Homo sapiens: one gene and its partners. The protein of the gene in region 1 purifies or fractionates together with the protein of each later gene. This does not show direct contact. Each region holds a gene or a part of one and is shown in the gene's direction. Other genes may lie near its edges. The genes, in order: CLGN, ARSB, MAN2B2, ALG9, PTPRU, CNTNAP1 and ABCA2.

The links.
Region 2: the proteins of CLGN (region 1) and ARSB purify together in Homo sapiens (co-immunoprecipitation; 2 studies listed by BioGRID and IntAct, with this or other methods). This does not show direct contact.
Region 3: the proteins of CLGN (region 1) and MAN2B2 purify together in Homo sapiens (co-immunoprecipitation; 2 studies listed by BioGRID and IntAct, with this or other methods). This does not show direct contact.
Region 4: the proteins of CLGN (region 1) and ALG9 purify together in Homo sapiens (co-immunoprecipitation; 2 studies listed by BioGRID and IntAct, with this or other methods). This does not show direct contact.
Region 5: the proteins of CLGN (region 1) and PTPRU purify together in Homo sapiens (affinity purification with mass spectrometry; 3 studies listed by BioGRID and IntAct, with this or other methods). This does not show direct contact.
Region 6: the proteins of CLGN (region 1) and CNTNAP1 purify together in Homo sapiens (co-immunoprecipitation; 2 studies listed by BioGRID and IntAct, with this or other methods). This does not show direct contact.
Region 7: the proteins of CLGN (region 1) and ABCA2 purify together in Homo sapiens (co-immunoprecipitation; 2 studies listed by BioGRID and IntAct, with this or other methods). This does not show direct contact.

Annotation. Positions count from the first base shown.
Region 1 is NC_000004.12:140,421,149-140,424,648, reverse strand, and holds part of CLGN (calmegin precursor), read left to right. Parts: intron 1-3,500. UniProt on the Homo sapiens protein: Functions during spermatogenesis as a chaperone for a range of client proteins that are important for sperm adhesion onto the egg zona pellucida and for subsequent penetration of the zona pellucida.
Region 2 is NC_000005.10:78,776,709-78,779,310, reverse strand, and holds the end of ARSB (arylsulfatase B isoform 1 precursor), read left to right. Parts: 3' UTR 1-2,102; downstream 2,103-2,602. UniProt on the Homo sapiens protein: Removes sulfate groups from chondroitin-4-sulfate (C4S) and regulates its degradation. Involved in the regulation of cell adhesion, cell migration and invasion in colonic epithelium.
Region 3 is NC_000004.12:6,578,189-6,581,688, forward strand, and holds part of MAN2B2 (epididymis-specific alpha-mannosidase isoform 1 precursor), read left to right. Parts: intron 1-204; coding exon 205-310; intron 311-3,500.
Region 4 is NC_000011.10:111,840,582-111,844,081, reverse strand, and holds part of ALG9 (alpha-1,2-mannosyltransferase ALG9), read left to right. Parts: intron 1-3,272; coding exon 3,273-3,427; intron 3,428-3,500. UniProt on the Homo sapiens protein: Mannosyltransferase that operates in the biosynthetic pathway of dolichol-linked oligosaccharides, the glycan precursors employed in protein asparagine (N)-glycosylation.
Region 5 is NC_000001.11:29,239,522-29,243,021, forward strand, and holds part of PTPRU (receptor-type tyrosine-protein phosphatase U isoform 1 precursor), read left to right. Parts: intron 1-3,500.
Region 6 is NC_000017.11:42,681,188-42,685,330, forward strand, and holds the start of CNTNAP1 (contactin-associated protein 1 precursor), read left to right. Parts: upstream 1-1,343; 5' UTR 1,344-1,642; coding exon 1,643-1,709; intron 1,710-2,633; coding exon 2,634-2,735; intron 2,736-2,848; coding exon 2,849-3,042; intron 3,043-3,803; coding exon 3,804-3,951; intron 3,952-4,029; coding exon 4,030-4,143. Other genes in the region: CCR10 (C-C chemokine receptor type 10), read right to left, coding at 613-636. UniProt on the Homo sapiens protein: Required, with CNTNAP2, for radial and longitudinal organization of myelinated axons. Plays a role in the formation of functional distinct domains critical for saltatory conduction of nerve impulses in myelinated nerve fibers.
Region 7 is NC_000009.12:137,021,738-137,025,237, reverse strand, and holds part of ABCA2 (ATP-binding cassette sub-family A member 2), read left to right. Parts: intron 1-1,001; coding exon 1,002-1,095; intron 1,096-1,397; coding exon 1,398-1,400; intron 1,401-2,185; coding exon 2,186-2,297; intron 2,298-2,372; coding exon 2,373-2,536; intron 2,537-2,759; coding exon 2,760-2,887; intron 2,888-3,236; coding exon 3,237-3,347; intron 3,348-3,500. UniProt on the Homo sapiens protein: Probable lipid transporter that modulates cholesterol sequestration in the late endosome/lysosome by regulating the intracellular sphingolipid metabolism, in turn participates in cholesterol homeostasis.

The DNA of each region.
Region 1 (3,500 bases):
AAGAGGGTGACATTAGCACTAAATGTTCTACCCTATACCATATAAACAAATTCTTGCTGTACTAAAATTATATAACTTAAACAACCATACAGATCAATAAAGAAATAGATAACACCACAAGCCAACTAAACATAATAAACATATGGACAACACTGTACCCAACAATAGCAGAACACACATTTTTCTTAACTGCACATAGAACATTCTCCAGGATAGACCATATTAGACCACAAAACAAGTCTTAATGAATTTTAAAAGATTGAAATCATACAAAGTAAGTTTTCTGAACACAAAGGAAAGGAACTAGAAATCAATAGTAGAAGGAAAACAAGAAAAATTCACAAATATGTGGAAATTAAACAGCACACTCTTGAACAATGAGCCAAATAAGTCTCAAGAAAAGTTAGAAAAACATCTTGAGACAAATGAAAAGGAGAACAAAAGATACCAAAACTTATGGGATACAGTGAAAGCAGTGTTAAAAGGGAAATTTATAGCTTTAAGCACTTACATGAAAAACAAAAGATCTCAAGTTAACAACCTAACTTACACCTTGAGGAACTAGAAAAAGAGCAAATGAAACCCAAAAGTTAGAAGAAAGAGGGAAATAATAAAGATTAGAGCAGAGAGAAACAAAATAGAAAATAGAAAAACAAGAGAGAAAACAAGTGAAATCAAGAGTTAATTCTTCGAAAAGGTCAACAAAAAAATTAACAAACCTTTAGTTAGATTAAGAAAAATGAGAGAAGACTCAAATAACTAAAATTGGTAATGAAAGGACATTACATCTGATTCTACAGAAATAAGAGGGATTATAAGAGAATACGCTGAAGGATTGTATGGCAACAAATTGGATAACCTAGATTAAATGGATACATTCTTAGAAACACACACTCTATCAAGATTAATCATGAAGAAGTAGAAAATCTGAACAGACCTGTAACTGGTAAGGAGATTGAATCAGTAAACAAAAACTTCCCAGCAGATAAAAGCCCAGGACTAGGTGGCTTCACTGGTGAGTTCTACCAAACATTGAAAGAATTAACACCAGTCCTCCTCAAATTCTTCCGAAATATTGAAGAGGAGTAAACACTTCCAGATTCATTCTATGAAGCCAGCATAACCCTGTTATCAAAGCCAAAGACACTACAAGAAAACTACAGAGCAATATTCCAGATGATTATTGATGCAGAAATTCTTAACAAAATACTTGACAACAAAATTCAGCTGCATATTAAAAGAGTTATATACTATGACCATGTTGGATTTATTCCTAAAATTCAAGGATGATTCAACATAAGAAAATCAGTGTACCATGCCACATTTACAATGTAGGGAGGGGAGAACACATGATCATCTTTATTCATGCAGAAAAAGCATTTGACATGATTCAACACTCTTTCATAATAAAAAACACTCAGTACACTAGGAATAGAAGGAAACCACCTCAACATAGTAAAGGTCATATATGAAAAGCCCACAGTTAACATCAGACTAAATGGTGAAAGACTGAAAGCTTTTCCTTTAAGATCTAGAATAAGACAAGGATGCCTGCTTTTTCCACTTCTCCCGAGCCAGAGAAATTAGGGAAGAAAAAGAAAGAAAAAAGACATTCAAATTGAAAAGGAAGAAGTAAAATTATCTCAGCAGATAACATGATCTTATATGTATGTACAAAACCCTAAAGATTTCACGAACACAATACAAAAGTCTGTTAGAAATAATAAATGAAGGCCAGGCATGGTGGCTCATGCCTGTAGTCCCAGCAATTTTGGAGGCCAAGGTAGCCAGATCAGTTGAGTCTAGGAGTTTAAGACCAGCCTGCGCAACATGGCAAAAACCATCTCTACAGAAAAATACAGAACATTAGCTGGGCATGGTGATGCTTGCCTGTAGTCCCAGCTACTCGAGAGGCTGAAGTGGAGGATCACCTGAGTCCAGGAGTTCAAGGCTGCAATGGGCCATGATGGTGCCACTGCACTCCAGCCTGGGTAACAGAGTGAGATCCCATCTCAAAAAACAAACAAATGAATTCACTAAAGTTGCAGGGTAAAAAAACTAGCACACAAAAATTAGTTGCACTTCTGTATACTAACAATGAACAGGAAATTAAGAAAACAATTCCATTTATAACAACATAAAAAAGAATAAAATACTTAGGAATAAATCAAGGAAGTAAAATACTTGTACATGAAAAATTATGAAATGCTGCTGAAAGAAATTAAGAAACAAATATTAATCAATGGAAAGACATTGTGTTCATTGGGATTGGAAGACTTAATAAGATGGAAACACAACCCAAAGTAATCTACAGATTCAGTGCAATCCCTGTCATAATCCTAATAGCACTTTTTGCAAGAATAGTAAAATTCATATAGAATCTCAAGGGACCCCAAATAGCCAGAACAATCTTGGGAAAGAATAAGTTTGGAAATCTCACATCTCTGTTTCAAAACTTATTACAAAGCTATAGTAATCAAATCAGTGTGAGACTGGCATAAAGACAGACATATATATCAATGGGATACAATAAAGAGCCTAGTAATAAATTCCCACATATATGTTCAAATTTTTTTTATAAAAGTGCCAAGACCATTTTGTGAGAAAGGACAGTCTTCTCATGAGATGATATTGGGGAAACTGGCTATCCACATGCAAAAGAATGAGGTTGTAACCTTACCTTAAATCATAGACAAAAATTAACTCGAAATGGATTGAAGACTTAAACATAAGAAAACTATAAAACTGTTAAAAGAAAACATGGAAAGCTTCATGACATTGAATTTGCCAGTAATTTTTATATGACACCAAAAGCACAGACAACAAAAGAAAAAATATATAAATTGGAAAACTCAAAATTAAAAAGTTCTGTGCATCAAAGAACACAACAAAATGAAAAACCTATGCAATGGGAGAAAATATTTGCCAATCATATATTTGATAAGGGGTCAGTATCCAGAATTTGTAGGAACTCCTACAACTCAAAACAAAAACAAAACCTGATTTTTTAAATAGGCAAAGGACTTGAATAGACATGTTTCCCTTGAAGATGTATAAATAGCCAACAAGCACATGAAAAGATACTCAGTATCACTAATCATCAGGGAAATGCAAATCAAACCACAATATGATACTACGCCATATTAGGACCTATTACAATGACTACTATTTAAAAAAACATAATTTTGAACAAATGTTGGCAAGGATGTGTAGAAATTGGAACCCTTGTGCCTTGTTGGTGGGAAGGTAAAATGGTAAAGCCACTGTGGAAAACAGTATGAGGATTCAAAAAAAAATAGAATTATCATATGACCAAGCAATTCAACTTATGGGTATATACTCAAAAGAATTGAAAACAAGGTCTCGAAGAGTTATTTGTATACCCATATTCATTGTAGGATTATTCACAACAGCCAACAGGTGGAAGCAACCCAAGTGTCCACTGACAGATGAATGTATAAACAAAATGTGGTGTATACACACAATGGAATACTGTCCAG
Region 2 (2,602 bases), on another chromosome or scaffold:
AGGAGGGCACACCCACAGTCCTCTTATTCTCTGTTTTACTGCTTGTTTTGAGGTTCTGGGGTCTGGCAAAGAGGATGCAGTTTGACACCTGCAGCCCTTTCTCAATCCCACTAATGTCTTACTAATGTGGAACAGTCCATATTAGCTCCAGAGAGTGTCAAACCCAGAGAAATGTGTGCAAAAATGATACTCTTTTCTGCATTAGCCCCACCATTGTGTTCACCAATGCTTGGAACACTGCCTGAAGGCACTCATTTTTTAATTTTTATTTTATTTTTAATTTTTTATATCTTTATGAGACGATCTCACTCTGTCACCAGGTTGGAGTACAGTGGTACAATCACAACTCACCGTAGCCTCAAACTCCTGGGCTCAAGTGATTCTCCCACCTCAGGCACCCAAATAGCTGGAACTACAGGCATATACCGCCACACCCAGCTAATTTTATTTTTTGAAAAGACAAGGTTCCCTATGTTGCCCAGCTGGTCTTAAACTCCTGGGCTCCAGCAATTATCCCAGCTTGGGCTCCAAAAGTGCTGGGATTACAGGCATGAGTCACCATGCCTGGCCTCATTTTTTAAAACAAATGAATAAATGGACAAATGAGTAAATGAGAAAGTCTCACACCATGAAAGATGCTAGTCCAATGAGCTGAATACAGAGGTAATATAAATGTCTTCCAGCTGTTGCTTTTCTGTTCTCAAGCTGCCCCTCCTGGGGTAGGAGCATAATCTACATCACTGGGCAGTCACAGGACACTCTATAGCAAGGTTGTAGCGTCCTCTCCAGTGGGGGGAGAAAAGGAACTGTGCCTACCAAAGGTACTCTCTTGTCAGCAATTTCCATTTCTATACTTTATGGGACACTAGAAACTAAAAGCAACAAATAATCTGATATAAGTCCTTGTATAGTCATCCTTCAATTCAGTAGCAATATTTTCTGGTCACTACTAACCTGTATTGTATTAAAATGAGACTATTGGAAGGAAATGGTGCTAAAACTAATAACATCTCTTACCAACCTTTACCCAACTCCTGGGTTGGCAAACAGCTGACCAAACTGCCATCACCTCCCACTTGGAAGTGTATGGCCGACAGCATGAAATAGCTGAGCCCAGATGTTCCTTCTGCATCCTCCGAATCCCAGGGCTGGGTGTAGGTAGCCGTTGGAGGCCATCGCTACAGGGCACCTATCTGTTATCGCTGCTGTCCTCCCAACAGCTGTCTCCAGTTCTAGTTCCTTGGTTTTCAGGCACAGTGGGGGATGTTCTGCACCCAGTGGACTTCAAAAGAGTTTTGAAGACTTAATTTTTTGTAAAACAAGTACTTGAGATTTTGGTTTATCCATAATAGAATGTATTTCATTAGATTCTCTGATTCTATATAAGAATGTGAAAAGATTGATATATTGTTGTTAGAAATAATGTTATTTCTTTCCAATTTTTTTTTTTTTTTTTTTTGAGATGGAGTCTCGCTCTGTCACCCAGGCTGGAGTGCAGTGGTGTGATCTCGGCTCACTGCAGCCTCTAACTCCCAGGTTCAAGCTATTCTCCTGCCTCAGCCTCCCAAGTAGCTGGATTACAGGCATACACCACCACGCCTGGCTATGTTTTGTATTTTTCGTAGAGATAGGGTTTCACCATGTTGGCCAGGCTGGTCTCAAACTCCTGACCTCAAGTGATCCACCCACTTCAGCTTCCCAAAGCACTGGGATTACAGGTGTGAGCCACTGTGCCCGGCAAATTTTTTTACCTTTACAGAAGGTTTTGCTTATTTAATTGTGAGCTCATTTTTCTTTGTTACTTTTGTCCCCCCAGATTTGGGGGACAAAATAAAATTAATCTTTTAAAATGTGTCAGCCATATGTATGGGGCTTCCATTTGGGGTGAGGAGAAAGTTCTGGAACTAGATAGTGGTCATGGTTATACAACATCATAAATGCAATTACTGCCACTGAATTGTATGTTTTAAAGTGGTTAAAATGTTAAGTTTTATGTTTTATTACAATTTTTAAATGTGTCAACCAACTTTATAGTACATAAATTATATCTCAGTAAAGCTGTTAAATAAATAAATATAGTAAAAATTTTAGAACTAAAAAAAGTGTCAATCATTGCCCTAAGAATATAAACTATAAAATAAGGTATTAGAGGGAGGTCAAGGAAGGGTAGGAGTGAAAACAAAGTGACAGTAAAAGAGAGTATTAGCTCTCTATTGCTGCGTAACAAATTACCCCAAAACTTAGCAGCTTAAAACAATAAACATTCATAACTTCACACATTCTATGAGGGTAAGGACACTGGGAGTGGTTTAGCCCAGTGGTTCTGGCTCAGGGTCTCTCGTGAGATTGTTGTCAAGCAGGCCTGTGGTCATCTGAAGACTTGAGTGGGGCTGCAGGCTCCACTTTTAAGCTGACTCACTCACAAGGCTCTTGGCTGGAGGCCTCAGCTCCTTGCCATGTGGGCATCTCCACAGGCTGCTTGGATGTCCTCACACATGGCAGTTAACTTCCTCCAGAGCAAATAAACAGGGAGCCACAGGGCCTTTCATGACCTAGTCTCTAGAGGTGTACACTGTCACTTATACCATTTTTCTATTTGTTA
Region 3 (3,500 bases), about 130 Mb from region 1:
TCAAATACCACCTGAGGGCTGCATGATTTCTAGGTGGTGGGAACACAGTGTGGACCAGGACAGACAGTGCCCTGCTTTTATAGAGTAAGCAAGGGTGGGGAGTTTTATGCAGGGCGTGTGTGGCGCTGTAGGTGTGTTCCCCACAGACCCAGCCATGCTCAGGAGCCGTAACTGGCTTTTTTCTCTCTGCCTGCCCATGTCAAGGTCCGCCAGCTCCTGGAGGAAGGACGCCTGGAATTTGTCATCGGAGGCCAGGTCATGCATGACGAGGCTGTGACGCACCTTGATGACCAGATCCTGCAGCTCACAGGTTTGGCCACCCTACCCTGCACCCAGGGTCCCTCAGGACCTCCAGTGGGGCTGGGACATGGTATCAGAACCCCCAGGTTCTGAGCTCTGTCTGCCCCTCTTAGTGGGGTCGGGGACCTTAACCAGTGAAAGCAGTGATTTGCTAGTGCCATATTCATGCCTCACCAAGGAAGTTGAATGTAGGGGTTAAGAGCATGGATGCTAGAGTCAGATGGTCTCAATATATCCTGGCTCTGCCAATTCCCTCCTCTGTGACCCTGGAAAGGAATGTAACTTCAGTTTCCTCATAGATAAAATGAGTTTGATGGTAATACCTACCTCAAAGGGTTGTTGTGAGTATTAAATGGGATAATTCAAATAAAGCACTTTAGTAGGATGTGGGTTCCCTAGTAAATGCTCAGTAAGTGTTTGCTGCCTTCCATCACAATTACCACCTTCAGCACCATAATGACCATGACTACTACCATCACCACCACCACCACGATGACCATCACTACCACTACCATCACCACCACCACCACCATCACCATCACCACTACCACCATCACCACCATCACCACCACCATCACCATCACCACCACCACCACCATCACCATCACCAGCACCACCACCATCACCATCACCACTACCACCACCACCACCATCACCACCACCATCACCATCACCACCACCACCACCACCATCACCATCACCAGCACCACCACCATCACCATCACCACCACCACCACCACCATCACCACCACCACCCTTCACCACCATCACCACCACCACCATCACCACCACCATCACCATCACCACCACCATCACCACCACCACCACCATCACCACCACCACCACCACCACCATCACCATCACCACCACCATCACCATCACCACCACCACCACTACCCTTCACCATCACCACCACCACCATCACCATCACCACCACCATCACCACCACCCTTCACCATCACCACCACCCTTCACCACCACAATGACCATCACTACCACTACCATCACCACCACCATCATAACTACCATCACCACCACCCTTCACCACTGCTATGACCACCACTACCACTACCATTACTACCACTACCATCACCACCATCACCACTACCACCATCATCTTCACCACTACAATGACCATTACTACCACTACCATCACCACCACCCCCTAAACACTATCACCATGATCACCACCCATCACTGTCGCCACCACCATCACCACATCCATTACTACCATCCCCTCCACAATCATCATCACCACCACCATGACCATCTCCCTCACCATTGTGTCCACTGTCCTCAGCACCATCACCCACAGTGCCGTGGGGCACTCTACTCACCATTTACCAAATGCCTTTCACAGTGACACCCCAGCCAATCCTAATGGCGGGCTGATGGTGAGGCATGGTGATGCCCAGTTTCATTTTGCAGATGTAGAAACTGAGATCCAAAGAAATGCAGTAACTCTCTCCAGGGTAGATGGCCAGGACTTGAGTCCAGGCCTAGGGACTGAAGCTCCGAGTCCACAGTCACTCCACTACAGCATGGGCCCTGATTTCCCCATTTGTAAAACATCCAGGCAGAGAGCAATGTTGTCAAAGGATGTTTTTGGCACTCTCCCTTTTCTCATCTGTAATCTGGAGTGTTCCCCTGTCTCAGTTTCTTACTGCCTTACATCTGGACTTTGCTCAAACCCTAGACTTGCCCTTCCATGAGAAGGAGGCGTGATGGACACAGCCCTACAGACAGAGCTCCTCCTGTGGCCAGGAGCTCAGCCCCTGCTTGTCCCCCTGCATCCCCACAGGCCCAGAGGTAACAGGGGAGGACAGCAAGGCTCAGAGGGAGCACCTTGCCCTCAGCCGCCTGCTGTGGCTCCCTGACTCCAGAGCCCCTGCTCTTTCACTCCCCCATGTGAAGTGTGGGCAAGGGATCTATCCCAACAGACTTCCCCCACACCCCTTCACAAGCCCACTGCCAGGGAATGTGTGACACTGTAGGCGTGTCCCCCACCTGCCTCCTGCCCCGTGCCAGCGAGGAGGCTCTGGGGCTGTTTCTCACCTGTGCCATTTCACGCAGTGCTCCCCCTCATTCTCCACCCTCCTCCTCAAGATGCAGCTGAGAAGCCCCTCCCGCAGGAAATCTCTGAGTCTCTGCAGTTCTGTGTCACCTCCCCACTTAACCGCTGAACCTCAAGATGCCCCTGGCAGGGACCCCCATCTGACTCATCTCAGCACCCAGCATAGGGTCTGGCCCAGACCACTGCTTACTGGGCAAGGCTGGGCAAGGGGTGGGCGCTGAACTGCCCTGCCCTGAGGGTACCCACCACTGGGGTACCTCGCCTCTGGCCTCAGCCCACCGTGCCTAAGTGCTGATACCCCAGCGCTGACCCTGCAGGTCTGACCTGGCAACTGGAAGCCTCAGGGAAGCTGAGGCTGTGTCGCTCTGGGGCAGGAAGAGCCTCCAGAGACACAAGAGACAGCGGCTGTTGTGAGGCTCCATTTCCAAACCTGTCCAAGCTCATGGGGCCCTCAGGGTACAGACATGTGGGTTTCTTTCATGATAACCACCTTGTTCTAGGTACAAGATGTACACGTATTTTTTTTTCAGTCCTCAGGGCAATCTGGTAGATGGGTAATCTTACAAATGCTTATTTGTAGAGAAGTTTGAGGCTCAAATGCTATCCAAATGTGCCCACCACCAGCTAAGTGATGGGACCCAGATCCAACCCTAGCCCGGCCGAGTCAGGAAGGTTACTTGTGGCTGAGCCCCTCTCACTGGCGGCTGAGCCAAGCCCTTTCCCATCTGCTATCTCTTAGTTGCCTCAGAACAGCCTGGTAGCAAGTGGTACTGTTCACAGCCCCATTTGACAGATGAGGAAACTGAGGTACTGAGAGATGCGGGATTTATATATATGCAGTAGGTAACAGAACTGGCGCTCAAGCCCATGTGTGCCTGGCCTGGGCTCTTTCCTTAACTTGTAGTCCCTAGGGCGGGGGCAGAGTGTGTGTATCAGACCACCCATCTCAGATGTCCCAGGCATTCTGGCTGTGAATTATGTCCACATTGGGCTGGTTTTCTCAGATATGTTGGGGTAAGAGGGGCTGGATCACCCCTCACTGCTTCCGGGCCCTTTATCCTCCATCTCACCTTGGTGGAGCCCCTGCCTCGAGGCAGGCCCTGGACAGCAAAGGAAGACAGGAGCA
Region 4 (3,500 bases), on another chromosome or scaffold:
AGTGAGCCAAGACCCTGCGCCGCTGCACTCCAGCTGAGCGACAAGAGCAAAACTCCATCTCAAAAAAAATCTCAGAAGAGAACAAGCCTATTTGAGTTTTCTATCTTTTAAAGAAGTGTATATTAACCTGATAGGTTGCTTAAGGTAATCCACGAGATAGTACTTCAAACGAAAGTATAAAATCTGAACCATACAGGGATTTCCCCAAATTTGATAGTGAAGTAAGGGAAGCTTTGGACTTCCTCAGAAGCATGATGCTTTTCTTTGTTCCTTTTTGTTTCTGTGTCTGCCTTATTGGAGAAAGTTTGGTTTGTCGTTTGCTTTGCTTGCTCTGATTCTGTAGTGCACAGCTGGTGTTTTCTCAAGTTGTCGTGGCTCTGGATATCTAGTGCCTCTCATTTCTTTTATGGAAGACAGATTTGAACAGAAATTCATATGAGGTTTGGAAAAAGATTTAATTTCAGACTTTGCAGTCTGATTTGGATGCCATATGATCAGTTCCCCCATCCCACCTCCATTCTGCTTTTCTACTATTAATGGTTTATAATGAGTTCGTTGTATTATAAGAATATTAGAGCAGCCTTCAGAGTCACTTTTCTTTGGTGTTAGGACTTTTGTTTCAACGTAGCCATAATGCCATTATCCTAATAAAATTATCAGTAATTTCTTAATATCATCTAATACCCATTGATTTCCTAGATTGTCTGAAAAATAGCCTTTTATAGTTAGTTTAAAGCAGAATCTCAACAAGGGTCACGTACTGAATTTAGTGTTATATTTCTTAAGCTTTTTAAGAAGACCCCCATCTTACTTTTTTTCTTTCGAAGATTTCTTTAAAGAAACCAGGCCATCATCTTGCATAATGTCCCACATTTTAGACTCAGCTGTTTGCTCCCTTGAGGTGTTAACTTATTCCTCTATCCCTTCTATTTCTTAAGGATCACTTTTTCTTTTTTTGAAAATAGCTATTTTTCTGACTATAAAAATAATTTATGATAGCTGGGAGCAGTGGCACGTGCATATAGTTCCAGCTGCCCGGGAGGCTACGGTGGGAGGATTGCTTGAGCCCAGGAGTTCGAGACCACTCTGGGCAACATAGTGAGACCTGTGTCTCTGTTTTTAAAAACAACAATAATAATTATTTATGCTTGTGGAAAATTTGGAAATGCTTGTAACGTCAGTAAAAAAACAGGATATTAAGCTGTTCTCTACAGTATGATAAAATTTTAAGTATAAAATATTGGTTTAAAATGCATAATGTATGCACATATCTACCTAGTAAGAAAACATTTTCTGTTTTTTTCTTTATATTTTTATGTGATTTTAGAATAGAACCAATACTTTTTTAAGAGAAAAAAGACCAGGCACAGTGGCTCATGCCTATAATCCCAGTATTTTGGGAGCACGAGGTGGGAGGATTGCTTGAACCCAGGAGTTCAAGACCAGCCTGGGTGAGATAGCAAGACCCTGTCACTACGAAAAAAATTAAAAAATTAACCGGGCATGGCGATGCACACCTGTAGTCCCAGCTACTTGGGAGGCTGAGGTGGGAGGATTGCTTAAGCCTAGGAGGTCAAGGCTACAGTGAGCCATGGTTGTGCCACTATGCTCCAGCCTGGGTGACAGAGCGAGACCCTGTCTCAAGAGAAAAAAAAAGTCCCCCAAACCATAGAAAATTATTAAGAAGCAGGAAAGAAATTACTCTTGATTTCATCATATCTAGCTGTGGTTGTGATTTTGTATATTTTATGGAGGACATTTCAAAATTTTTTGCCTTATTAAAAAAAGATTACTCGTTAGCCTTTAAGGTACAGAAGAGAAAAGGACTGTTTACTTGTGGACAATAAGTGGATTTATTTTCTTCTAATTAAAAAACCCCACCTTAGGCCAGGCACAGTGGCTCACGCCTGTAATCCCAGCACTTTGAGAGGCCGAGGCGGGTGGATCACCTGAGGTCAGAAGTTCAAGACCAGCATGACCAACACTGTGAAACCCCATCTCCACTAAAAATACAACAGTTAGCCTGGTGTGTTGATGCATGCCTGTAATCCCAGCTACTAAGGAGGCTGAGGCAGGAGAATCATTCGAACCTGGGAGGTAGAGGTTGCAGTGAGCCGAGATTGTGCCACTGCACTTCAGCTTGGGTGACAGAGAGAGACTCCGTCTCAGAAAACAAAAAACAAAAAACCTCCCCCTTAAAATATACTACCTAGAAAGGTATATATTCTAAATTATTATCTAAAATCCCATAATGTCTTAGAGCAAAAGTTGAAACAAAATCTTGTTATTGTAGTTCAAGAATTTTTATCCTTAAAGAATTTCTACAGTGAAAGTGATAGCCTAGGAATGCTAAATTAGGCATAGCTAAAGTGGATCTTGACGATAATCCTGATCTTGTAAACTGGCTTACTGTTAACATGGTGGACACCAGGGGGCGCTGTCTATCTACCATTTGCCCGCATTTGCGTTGCTCATTATCACTCCTGTAAACGCAGTAGGAGATGCCTTCACTGTGGGTTGCAGGCTTATCTCTCATTTCTCATGTACCTAACCACGGGAACTTTCCAGCAGGTTCTTGGGTTTTAGTGTTCATTACATTCCTTTAATTCTTTCACATGCTTTAAGTACATTTTTGTTCCAATTTGGGGATCCGGAGTGGATGAGTATTGCAAAATGGAGAGAAAACAATCACTGAACTTCCTTTAAGAGCATTTTTATGTTTGCCTTGAAACAAACTCCGTCATTTGTGGCTTGATGAAAACCAGTAATGAATTTGAGAATCCAACAATTTTGTTTTCCTTTGATCCATGGCTATTTGAACAGACTGATTGGTGTATAGATAAGAGACACCAATTAAACAGAACATTGGAATTAAAACCCCAGAAATGAATTTATGTTATGCTTTTGGTTAAACTCAGGAACTTTTCGTCTTAGTGGCAGGACTCATTAAAGGAGACGGCTTATTTTTCCTTCATCTAACGTAGAATTTATTAAGTTCTATTAGCCATTAACTTGACATTTATATGTGTCCTAACCAAATCTAGTATTGTGCTTGTTGTTAGAGTTTAGATCTCTTGGGAGAGCTAAGGAGTATATTCTTCTCTCCTTTTGATGCCTTTATGGCATTGGAGAAAGTGTGAATACAAGAGTAGAAACATTCTATGGAGTGTCCTAGGGCATACTCCTAAATTTGAGATCAAGATAACACTAAAACTAAATATGTTGTTTTGTTCTAATATAATGAAAGATGGGTATTTTTCTGTGTCTTGCAGTTCAGAATTTAGGCCACCCGTATTGGCTTACCTTGGCTCCAATGTATATTTGGTTTATAATTTTCTTCATCCAGCCTCACAAAGAGGAGAGATTTCTTTTCCCTGTGTATCCACTTATATGTCTCTGTGGCGCTGTGGCTCTCTCTGCACTTCAGGTGAGTTTCAGGGAGAAGTGTATCTGCCTCATTCTTTTTTACTTATTAAATAATTGCTCACAAACTTAAGTGC
Region 5 (3,500 bases), on another chromosome or scaffold:
CTGCTGCCCAGCTCTGGTGTCAGAAAAAACCTAGGGCAAGCATCGTGCTTGATGGAGACAGGCCACCATCCTTCCATGATTTTCATCAGCTCAGCTGGGCATATGGGGTGGCCTTTCCATGCAGGACTGGGTTGGCCAGAGTTGCAGGGGGTACCTTGTGCTCCTCCTTCCTCCCCCTCCCCCCTTTTCCTAGTTGCCCTCCTGCATCCTGGAACGTCCTGTCTGCCCTCTCAGAGACTCTTTCATCTGTCTCCTTCTGTCCGTCCTCAGCTATCTTTCACCTGCAGGAAGACTCCAGCCTCCTCCTTCCCTCTTTCCCTCATGGTGCCAGGGATCTTTGTAAAGTACATTTTAACTCAAAGGGTTTAAAACCCTTTGAAGGCTCCCCATTGCCTTCAGGGTGAAGTCCTTATCCCTTGGCCCTGTTGCTGGCTCTAGCTCCTGCCTGCCTGTCCAGCTGCATCTTGTTTTGTGTCACTGCCCCTTGCATCCTATGATCTGGCCAGCCTGACCTTCTTACCAAAGACCCAAATGCCCACAGCCTGCTGTCTCCTCTCTGGGCCTTTGGGCAAGCCGTGCTTTCTCTGCAGAACTTTCTAACTCCAGCTTTTTGCTGGTGAACTCCTGCAACTTGATGGGCTCTCAGCTGTAAGCATCATCCAGTCCCTGAAGCCTTCCTCGGTGATGCCCTGTCCTAGCCTAGGAAGTCGGGGGGTGGGGGTCAATTGGATTTTTACATAGCATTGTAATTATTGTAATTACAGTTTATTAGTGCTGTCTCCCTTACCAGACTGAGAGCTGAGGACAGAGACTGGGTTTTTAGTTTACTTCTGAATCTTAGTGCCAGGTACAAGGCCTGGCCCACCGGGTCTGAATAAATATATATGGCCTGAAAGAATAAAGTTTAAGGGGGCCAGGTTCAGAGGTGGAGATGCCAGATGGGGGTGCACTGATTCCACTGAAGGTAGAGATTGAAGAACCAGGTTTCCCTCCAGGAATCTGGAAAATTCCTGGAGGGTGGGGGATGGTGTTATGTTGTGAAAAGGCCATGTTGAGAGTGTCATCTGGGAGCTTTGAGTTGGGGAGGTTGAGTCCCTGGCAAGAGACTGAAGGGAACGGGCCTCCTGCCTGCCAGCCCCTCCCCCAGGCTCTGGCCCCACCCCTAGCAGCTGGCAGGGCCCTTCCAGCCCCCAGTCTCAGGCTTTTGTGATGGGGCCTGGCAGTTGGTGAGACGTTGAGTCTCAACGGTCTGTGTGAGTGGCTGGGGAGGAGGGAGGGAGCCCGCAGGGCCCTGTGTTAGGAGAGGGAGGGAAGCTTCCTGGAAGACCCTCCCTTAGTCCTCAGTCCTAGATCCTAGGGTGGGCGGGTGGGGTCACAGCCTCTGTTCTCACCGCTTGTGCACCGGAGGGAAGGGAGGAGAACTGCATCCCGTGGTGGCCCTGGCAGATGGGGTTGGGGAGGCTGGCTGAGGTGTGTGCAGATGTGACTCTAGCATCTGGGCAGTCAGAGTGGGGGGTGTGTAGGGATTGTAACTAGGGGCATGGACACATGTGACCTGTTAGGGTGTCTAGCCATCTGGTTATCGTGTGGTGTGGCAGGATCTGAGTTTGGAGTAGGGAGGTAACCAGCTGCTTTGACCCCTGGGGAGCCTGGTGCTAAGGGTGTCTGGCTATCCAAGTATCACATTCCTGGAGTTGGGTGCAGAGCTATTTGGATGGGTGGTGTCTCGCTATCTAGGTGTGGACAACCCAGTACCAGCATGTGGGAGGATCAGGGTGTGCAGACAGAGGCTATCCCAGCATCCCTGGGGCTGGAGGTGGGTGTATCCATGTGTCTGGGAGTCCTCAGGTTAGTGGGTATTTATAAGTGGGGAGTGTCTCTGTGTTGTGTCCAGGTATGGGGCTGGCCAGGTGCCTGAGTGTCTGGTTGTAGGGGTCCCCAAGTGTCCGGGTATCTGAGGGTGGGGGTATCTGTGTATGAAACAACAGGGACCCAGTCATTGAAGTATCCAGTTGTTAGTGAGTCTGGGTGTGGGGTGCCATGTGTCTATTTTTTTTTTTTCTTCTTCTTCTTCTTCTTCTTCTTTTTTTTGAGATGGAGTCTCACTCTGTCACCCAGGCTGGAGTGCAGTGGCGTGATCTTGGCTCATTGCAACCTCCGCCTCCCGGGTTCAAGTGATTCTCCTGCCTCAGCCTCCTAAGTAGCTGGGATTACAGGCGCACGCCACCATGCCTGGCTAATTTTTGTATTTTTAGTAGAGACTGGGTTTCGTCATGTTGGTCAGGCTGGTCTTGAACTCCTGACATTGTGATCTGCCTGCCTTGGCCTTCCAAAGTGCTGAGATTACAGGCGTGAACCACAGCGCACGGCCTTTTCTTCTTTTTTATTCAGATGGAGTCTCGCTTTGTCACCCAGGCTGGAGTGCAATGGCATGATCTCGGCTCACTGCAACCTTTGCCTCCTGGGTTCAAGCGATTCTCCTGCCTCAGCCTCCCGAATAGCTGGGATTACAGGCACCCGCCACCATGCCTGGCTAATTTTTGTATTTTTAGTAGAGATGGGGTTTCACCATGTTGGCCAGGCTGGTCTTGAACTCCTGACCTCAGGTGATCCACCTGCTTCGGCCTCCCAAAGTGTTGGGATTACAGGTGTGAGCCACTGTGCCTGGCCTCATGTGTCTATTTGTATGTTTAGATGTGGAGGTGCCCTTGTGACCTATGGTGGTGTCCATGTATCCAGGATGTGTCCACAAGGGGTGTGGACGTGTTGGGTGGGAATGTCCTGGTGGCTGTACCCAACTCAACCTCTGGTAGCCCCTTCCCTGGGACTTGCCTCCTGATCGCTCTTCAGACTCCAAAGCCAGAAGCCTTGGAAGGGGCCCCGATAGTTCTGTTTTTCAACGGTCAGCCTAGAGCTGTGTTATCTAATAGAACCTTCTGTGGTGATGGAAATTGTCCTCTACCTGCATTCTCCAATACGGTGGCTCCTGAGTCATGTATGGGTATTACATTTAAATTAATTAAAATAAAAATTCAATCCCTCAGTTGCACTAGTCAGATTTCAAGTCCTCAAGAGTCATATGTTGCTAGTGGCTCTCATTGTACTGGTTAATGCAGGCAGAGAACATTTCCATCCTCTCAGAAAGTTCTGCAGACAGCACTGGTCTAGAGGCATGAGGCGGCCTGCAGCACCTTCAGTGAGTCCTGGGCATCTCTGGGAGGGGAATTGGTCTGGATGGACCATGACTCAGTGGCTCTTGACAAAAGGTTTTGTTCAATCCAGGCCCCTTCTCTGCAGCCTTATTAGATCTTGCCTGGACTATTGCAGTAGCCTGGTAGCCTTCTTGGCCTCTACTCTGCCTGCCATCACGCTCTCGGTTTCTTTTTTTTTTTTTGAGATGGAGTCTCACTCTGTCACCCAGGCTGGAGTGCAGGGGCACCATCTTGGCTCACTGCAACCTCTGCCTCCTGGGTTCAAGCAATTCTTCAGCCTCAGCCTCC
Region 6 (4,143 bases), on another chromosome or scaffold:
GTATTTTTAGTAGAGATGGGGTTTCACCATGTTGGCCAGGATGGTCTCGAACTCCTGACCTCAGGTGATCCGCCCACCTTGGCCTCCCAAAGTACTGGGATTACAGGCCTGAGCTACCACGCCCAGCCCAAAGTTTGTATTATTAATAAATCCTACAGCTTCAGTTCCCTTTGCAGCGCCCTCTCCTGGAAGGATGCCCATATGCAGGCTTTGCCTCAGACCTGAGCCCTGGACTCCAACCTCCGTCTGGAGTGGGTTTCTGTTTCTCTTCTTTCCCTTCCATACCCACCTTCCCTGTACCTCCAATACCAGCACACTGAACCACTCATGCCAAGGGGGTCTCCAGGGTTGGGACTCAGGTTTTCAGGGCCCAGGTGGGACCCTGGACCTCTAGGTTCAACCCGCCTTTCCCCTCAGCCCTAGTCCCTGTCCCACAACCCCAGCCTCACACCACCAGCCCATTTATCTGGAGGACCCCTAGTCTGAGACAGCGCCAAGAATCCTGAATAAGCCATAGGATGGCAGAGGCCCATTGCCAGGTGGGGAATCCCATTCCTTCCCTGTCTCCTCCCTCTCTGTAACCCTTCTCCCCCTCCCTGCCCCCACTCCCACCTGCTCTGTGGCCTCCGTCCCCATCTCTGGCTACACAGGTTTCTGAGGTATAGCCACAGGGGGTAGAAGTTAAACTACTAGCGGGACAGGAAGGAAGAGGCGGGGAGAGGGGCCGAGAGGGAGGTGGGGATTAGGGTCTACGGGGTCACTTTCCCATTCCACCTCCTCCAAAAGACTTCACTCTCTTGTGCAGGATCTGGATTTTACGAAAAAAAAAAAAAGAAGAAGAAAGGAAGGAAAGAGGAAAGAAAGAAAGAAAGAAAGAAAAAAAGGAAGGAAAGAAAGAAAAAAGAATGAACGAAAGAAAGAAAAAATAATTTACTGTCTTTGTCAGTGAAGAAAGAACGGGCTTCGGAATATAATCATTTGCTGTGTGATATTGACTAAGTTTCTTGACCTCTCTGAGCCTGAGGTTTTTCATCTGCAAAGTGGAGTAGGGCAAAAATGCTAAATTCACAGTGCCCAGCACCACTCCTAGAGCATAATTTGCCTTCCGAAAATGTTAAGATTCTTTTACTTACCCTTCATTCCATTTCCAGGCACCCCTCCCCCAAACCACCTCCCTTTTCTTGAAATTTTCAGGATGCTTCTGGCCCTAGGTTCCCTGTCCTCACTCCTGTGGCCCTAGTCCCGGGCAGCCTCGGGTTACTTGGGGTTTTCCCGGTGGCGAGAGGCTCTCTACCCCCGCCCTTTCGCAGCAGGGCTGAGGCACGCGCTTGCGCGGGGTCCGGGAAACCGGCGCGTGCCAGGAGACAGAGGCTGGGGAAGGGGGGAGGTGAGAGGAAAGAGGGTGGAAAGGAGAGGATAGAGAGAGAAGAGCGGAGGACCAGGAACCAGAGAGAGAGAGAGAGAAAAGAGAGAGGAGAGACAGAGCGCTTGGGGGCGAAAGGAGAGAGGGAGGGAAGGGTGGGTAAGGAGGAGAGAGCGGTCTGCTGCAAACCCCAGGAGGAGAGCTTGGAGCCCAAGCCAGAACTCGAGCCCTAGCCGGAGCCGTTCACAGGGAGGCGGCTGCCGGGACCGTCAGCCCTGCATGATGCATCTCCGGCTCTTCTGCATCCTGCTCGCCGCGGTCTCAGGAGCCGAGGGCTGGGGCTACTGTGAGTGTTGGGCTTGGAGGCAGGTGGGGTTGGGCCCAGGAGTCCAGAGCCTGCAGGGCGGCCCCGAACCGCATTGCGGCTGGGTGGTCGCGGGTCCTTCCCGGCCGGCGCGCGCCCGCTGGCTCTCATCTTTTCCTGCCTCTCCCCCGCGCTCCGCATTGCAGCTCTGAGGCTGCCGCGCGCGCCCGGGGCTGGGGCTGGGCTCTGGGAAGAGGATGAAGTCAGCGGGCAGGGATTTGGGGTTGGGATCCAAGCAGGAGCTGGTGCCTGGGTTTGAGGCTAGGGCTGGGGGATAAGTGTATACTGGTGACCGATACTAGGATTAAGGTTTTGCCAGGGCTTAAGGCTGGACTTTGGAGCTGGCCAAGGGGTGGGGTTTGTGGCTAGGGCTGGGGTTTGTGGCTGGGGCTGGGTTTTGTGGCAGGGATCCAAGCAGGAGCTGGTGCCCCTGACTGATGCTAAGGCTGGACATGGAGCTGGTGATGGTGCTAGCACTGGCTGAGGTTGGGTGCAAGGCCTGTATTTGGGGATGGTGCAGGTTTTGGGGGCCGAGTTGGATTGAGGCTAGGGTTGGAGCTGGATTGGTGTCTTGGGTTGACTTAGGTTGTGGAAGATGCTGAGGTTTAGGATTGAGTTTGGGAAAGTACTAAACCAGGGCAGGTATTGGGCTAGCTAGGGAGGGTCTGGCCTTGGGCCTATAGGTGTAGCCTAGGGGTTTGCCTAGAAGGAGAAGGTAGCCTCCTCTGAGCATGCAGCTGTTGCTGCAGCCAGGATTGAATAGATGGCTTTAAGGTAGGGCTGGGTGTGCCTCTGGGGGCGGGGGTTGGGGGCACGGAAGGGGAAGCTTCGGTCGCTAAGTGGGCCGGCCTTTGGAAGGGTCTGGGAGGGGCCAGCGCTGACTAACAGTCGGTTTCCCTACCCTAGACGGCTGCGACGAGGAGCTGGTGGGTCCCCTGTATGCACGCTCCCTGGGCGCCTCCTCCTACTACAGTCTCCTTACTGCGCCGAGATTCGCCAGGCTGCACGGTGAGCTCCGCGGAACATCAGCTGCCAACTGGCAGCGCACCGCGGAAGGGTGGGGGCCTCCGGAGGACTTCGGGGAGAGGGATAGCCGGTTAAAGCTCCTGTCCTTTCTATAGGCATAAGCGGGTGGTCACCACGGATTGGGGATCCGAATCCCTGGCTCCAGATAGACTTAATGAAGAAGCACCGGATCCGGGCCGTGGCCACACAGGGCTCCTTTAATTCTTGGGACTGGGTCACACGTTACATGCTACTCTACGGCGACCGAGTGGACAGCTGGACACCGTTCTACCAGCGAGGGCACAACTCGGTACTCTGGGCGCCAAGGCGGTAACACTTGGGGAGCTTCCTCTGCTCCAGGCTCTGGGCCGGGCACCAGCCTCTGGGAAAATGGAGGGGGTGGTGGTGAGGGCTCGGACAAGGAGCAGTGACTCCACTCCAGGGACTCTGTCCAGAGGGACTGTCAGCTTAGGACGTGCGCGAAACACTCGGTTCACAGGGTTTAACACACTTTAGGGTAAAACCTGGGAGAGCTTCCTAAGGAGGTGACATTTGATTTCAGGTCTGAGGAAATAATAGGATTGTGGGACAGGGCACTTTATGGAAACTGTGCGGGCAAAGCCGCCAAGCAGGGAAGACCAAGGAGTGTTTACTTTCCAGAAGTCGAGATTGGCTGGGTGTGAAAGTTGTGGGCTGGGAGGCTATGGAGAAAGAAGCAGAGGGGGGCCGGGCGCAGTGGCTCACGCCTGTAATCCCAGCACTTTGGGAGGCCGAGGCAGGTGGATCACGAGGTCAGGAGTTCATGACCAGCCTGGCCAACATGGTGAAACCCCGTCTCTATGAAAAATACAAAAAAATCAGCCGGGCGTAGTGGCGGGCGCCTGTAATCCCAGCTACTTGGGAGGCTGAGGAAGAGAATTGTTTGAACCCGGGAGGCAGAGGTTGCGGTGAGCCGAGATCGTACCACCGCACTCCAGCCTGGGCGACAGAGCGAGACTCTGTCTCAAAAAATAAAATAAAAAAAAGAAGCAGAGGGCAGGACGTGGTTACTACTCTCCTCCACCCCCGCAGACCTTCTTTGGTAACGTGAACGAGTCGGCGGTGGTGCGCCATGACCTGCACTTCCACTTCACTGCGCGCTACATCCGCATCGTGCCCCTGGCCTGGAACCCACGCGGCAAGATCGGCCTGAGGCTCGGCCTCTATGGCTGCCCATACAGTAAGTGTGCAGAGAGCGCGGAGGGGGCCTGGGAGACAGCCTCCCCAGTTCCCGGCCCACCTACGGTCCTTTGCGCAGAGGCCGACATACTCTATTTCGACGGCGACGATGCCATCTCCTACCGCTTCCCGCGAGGGGTCAGCCGAAGCCTGTGGGACGTGTTCGCCTTCAGCTTCAAGACCGAGGAGAAGG
Region 7 (3,500 bases), on another chromosome or scaffold:
GAAGTGAGCAAAGCACCTCTTTCTCACTCCACGCAGGTCCCACTAGGGCTCACCTTGGTGCCCAGCCTGGGTTAGCAGGAGCCGACCTGGGGAAACTGAGCTCCAAGGCCCAAGACTGGCTGCCCCGGGTCAGGAGAGGGGACAGGGCAGAAAGAGGTGCCTTTGGGCCAGGTGTGGTGGCTCACGCCCAGGTGGGCGGATCACGAGGTCAGGAGATCGACACCATCCTGGCTAACACGGTGAAACCCCGTCTCTACTAAAAATACAAAAAATTAGCTGGGCATGGTGGCGGGCGCCTGTAGTCCCAGCTACTCGAGAGGCTGAGGCAAGAGAATGGTGTGAACTTGGGGGACGGAGCTTGCAGTGAGCTGAGATCGCACCACTGTGCTCCAGCCTGGGTGACAGAGTGAGACTCCGTCTCAAAAAAAAAAAAAAAAAAAGGTGCCTTTGCTTCAGGGACTGGGGCTGTTAGACCCCTTACCAGGTCTTCTCCGAGGCTCAGGGCCCTGGGCGCAGGCCAAGCCTCTCAACCAGGCCTCCTCATCTCCCCAGGCCCCGGTATTGGTGGGGAGGAAGTGGGAGGAAGGTGAACCCGGGGCAGTGTGGGAAGTGTAGGCGGGGCTAGTGGCTCAGATGGTCCCCAAGATTTTGCCCAGGTAGCCCTGGAGGTGGGGAGGGAGAAGATGAGCTGGGATATACATGGGTCAGAGTAGACCACAAGCTGGCCGATTTGTCCCTGTAGGCCCTGAGGCTCCTCAGAGGGCACGTAGGCCCAGTGTGGGCTGGGGACGGGAAACCTGATTTGCTGAGCCAGACAATCCTTACCCTCAGTGCCCTGGAAGGGGCTCAGACCTTCAGTGGTTCCGAAGGGCCTGTGCCCACCTTCCCTGGCCCCAGGGAGCACGTGGTCCTGTCTGGGCTGGGCCAGCCCTATGGGAGGCTGGGGAGGGCCTAGGCGAGCACAGGTCTGTCCTATCCCTCACTGGGCCCACCCTTTCCAGTGGGTCCTGGCCTTCGAGATCTTCATCCCCCTGGTGCTGTTCTTTATCCTGCTGGGGCTGCGACAGAAGAAGCCCACCATCTCCGTGAAGGAAGGTGAGTGCGGCAGGAGGCCCCAGGCACAGCCGGGGGAGCGCGGCACCTCGCACGCCTGCGCTGTGTGTGCACATCTGCACACGGGTGTCCTGCTCCCGGAGTCCCTGAGGTGCGGTGCCTGCTCCCCTGTGTGGTCCTGGGCCGTGCCTCCTGGCTGGGCTGTGGAGGTCGGGGCTGGCCTGTGGCCGCGAATGATGATGCCAACGCCTCTTCCTGGTGATGTGGGCACTCACTGGTCTCCTCTGTTCTGTTTTGATCCCCCTCCCTCCCCGCATGGTCTCTTGTCCTCGGCTGGCATGCAGTCTGTAAGTGAGCGGCCACCTCCTCCTGGCTGGCCTGGGCAGCAGCTGCGGGGGGCCCATGGGCCGTCCTGGCTTGAGCGCCCTCCCCGCTTGCATTAACAGCCCTCCCGGGCCCCCTGCCGGCCTCAGGAACAGCTGGCTCCAGATGGGGGGTGGCAGGCAGTGAAGTGGGAGGTGGTAGGGAGTGAAAGGCCCGGCCACCTAAAGGCACAGCTGGTGCCTGGGTCAAGCTGAGGCGGCATCTCTCTGCCTGGCCTTGCCTTCTAGGGCTGGGGTGCCTCGGCTTCTGGGCTGAGTCTGGGCTGAGGCTGGGCTGGCCTGGGCTGGGGCTGGAGCGGCCTGGCTACTCTCCCTTCATACTCCTTCAGGCTCTTGCACTCACTCTGCTAACCAGCTGGCCAGAGGTCAGAGGTCACTGCCCAGAGGGGGTCCTTTGTCCTCCCCTGGGCTCTGTAGGCAGTGCCACACCTGAAACGTTTTCGGGGGGAGAGTGCCAGGGCATGTGGGCCTGCACTGGCTGAAAGGAAAGGAATGCTCTGGGAGTTATGGCAGAAGGGGTGGTGAGTGGCTCTTTGACCTCTGACCTGCTGGAGTCATTCGCCCCAGAACGCTTGGCCTGTAGCCCAGCTGGGGCCAGGGCTCTGTGCCGCCTTCTCCCTAACGCTGCTTCTCCTTCCTGACTTTCTCTAAATTTCTCCTCTCGGCCTCTGTCTCCCTCCCCTTCTGGATTCCTCTCTCTCTCTCTCCCCTTTCACCCCCGACCCTGCCCTCTCCCGTGGGTCTGCCAGCCTTCTACACAGCGGCGCCCCTGACGTCTGCCGGCATCCTGCCTGTCATGCAATCGCTGTGCCCGGACGGCCAGCGAGACGAGTTCGGCTTCCTGCAGTACGCCAACTCCACGTGAGTGCCCACCCGCCCCTCGGAGCACCCACCCCTCCCCAGCCCATCCAGTGAGTGACATCCGCCATGGTGCAGGGTCACGCAGCTGCTTGAGCGCCTGGACCGCGTGGTGGAGGAAGGCAACCTGTTTGACCCAGCGCGGCCCAGCCTGGGCTCAGAGCTCGAGGCCCTACGCCAGCATCTGGAGGCCCTCAGTGCGGGCCCGGGCACCTCGGGGAGCCACCTGGACAGATCCACAGGTGTGCCCTGTGCAGGGAAGTTGGGGGGCAGGGCTGCGGGCAAAGCTCTGCTGTCACTGGGCTGAAGCCCACATCCACTCTGGGCCCCTCCACCTGCACTGAGTTCCCAGCCACGCACAGGCTGCAGTGGCAGAGCTGTGGTGTTGGGCTCGGCTCCGAGCGCATGTGGGGGCACCTTGCCAAGGTGCAGCGGCCTCTCAGCCTCGCCTTCCTGCCTGTCCAGTGTCTTCCTTCTCTCTGGACTCGGTGGCCAGAAACCCGCAGGAGCTCTGGCGTTTCCTGACGCAAAACTTGTCGCTGCCCAATAGCACGGCCCAAGCACTCTTGGCCGCCCGTGTGGACCCGCCCGAGGTAAGGCAGGGACAGCTCCCAGCCCTGGCCACTCCCTTCTGCCCCAGCCACGCCCCCTGGTTGCTGAGCCATCCTCAGGATGCTCAGCCTGAGTCACGCCCAGACCGTCTGAACCTTGCCCCCACCATCTGAGCCACGCCCCCACTCTCTGAGCCATGCCCCCACCATCTGAGCCACGCCCCCACACCTACATCGGAGCCACGCCCCCACCATCTGAGCCACGCCCCCACTCTCTGAGCCACGCCCCCACCATCTAAGCCACGCCCCCACACGTCCATCGGAGCCACGCCCCCACCATCTGAGCCACGCCCCCCACACCCCATCTGAGCCATTCCCCCACACCTCCTAGGTCTACCACCTGCTCTTTGGTCCCTCATCTGCCCTGGATTCACAGTCTGGCCTCCACAAGGGTCAGGAGCCCTGGAGCCGCCTAGGGGGCAATCCCCTGTTCCGGATGGAGGTGAGGGCATCCATGTGTGGGATGGGCCTGGAGTGCTGCCTGCCTCTGGGGGTGCTTCTGCTCCGTGGGTGAGGAAAGGGCCCCTTTGGTGACTTGGAGCTCCTCCTGGGAGAGGGGGAGGGTCCCAGGGGTCTATGGCAGGCATGAGGGGTA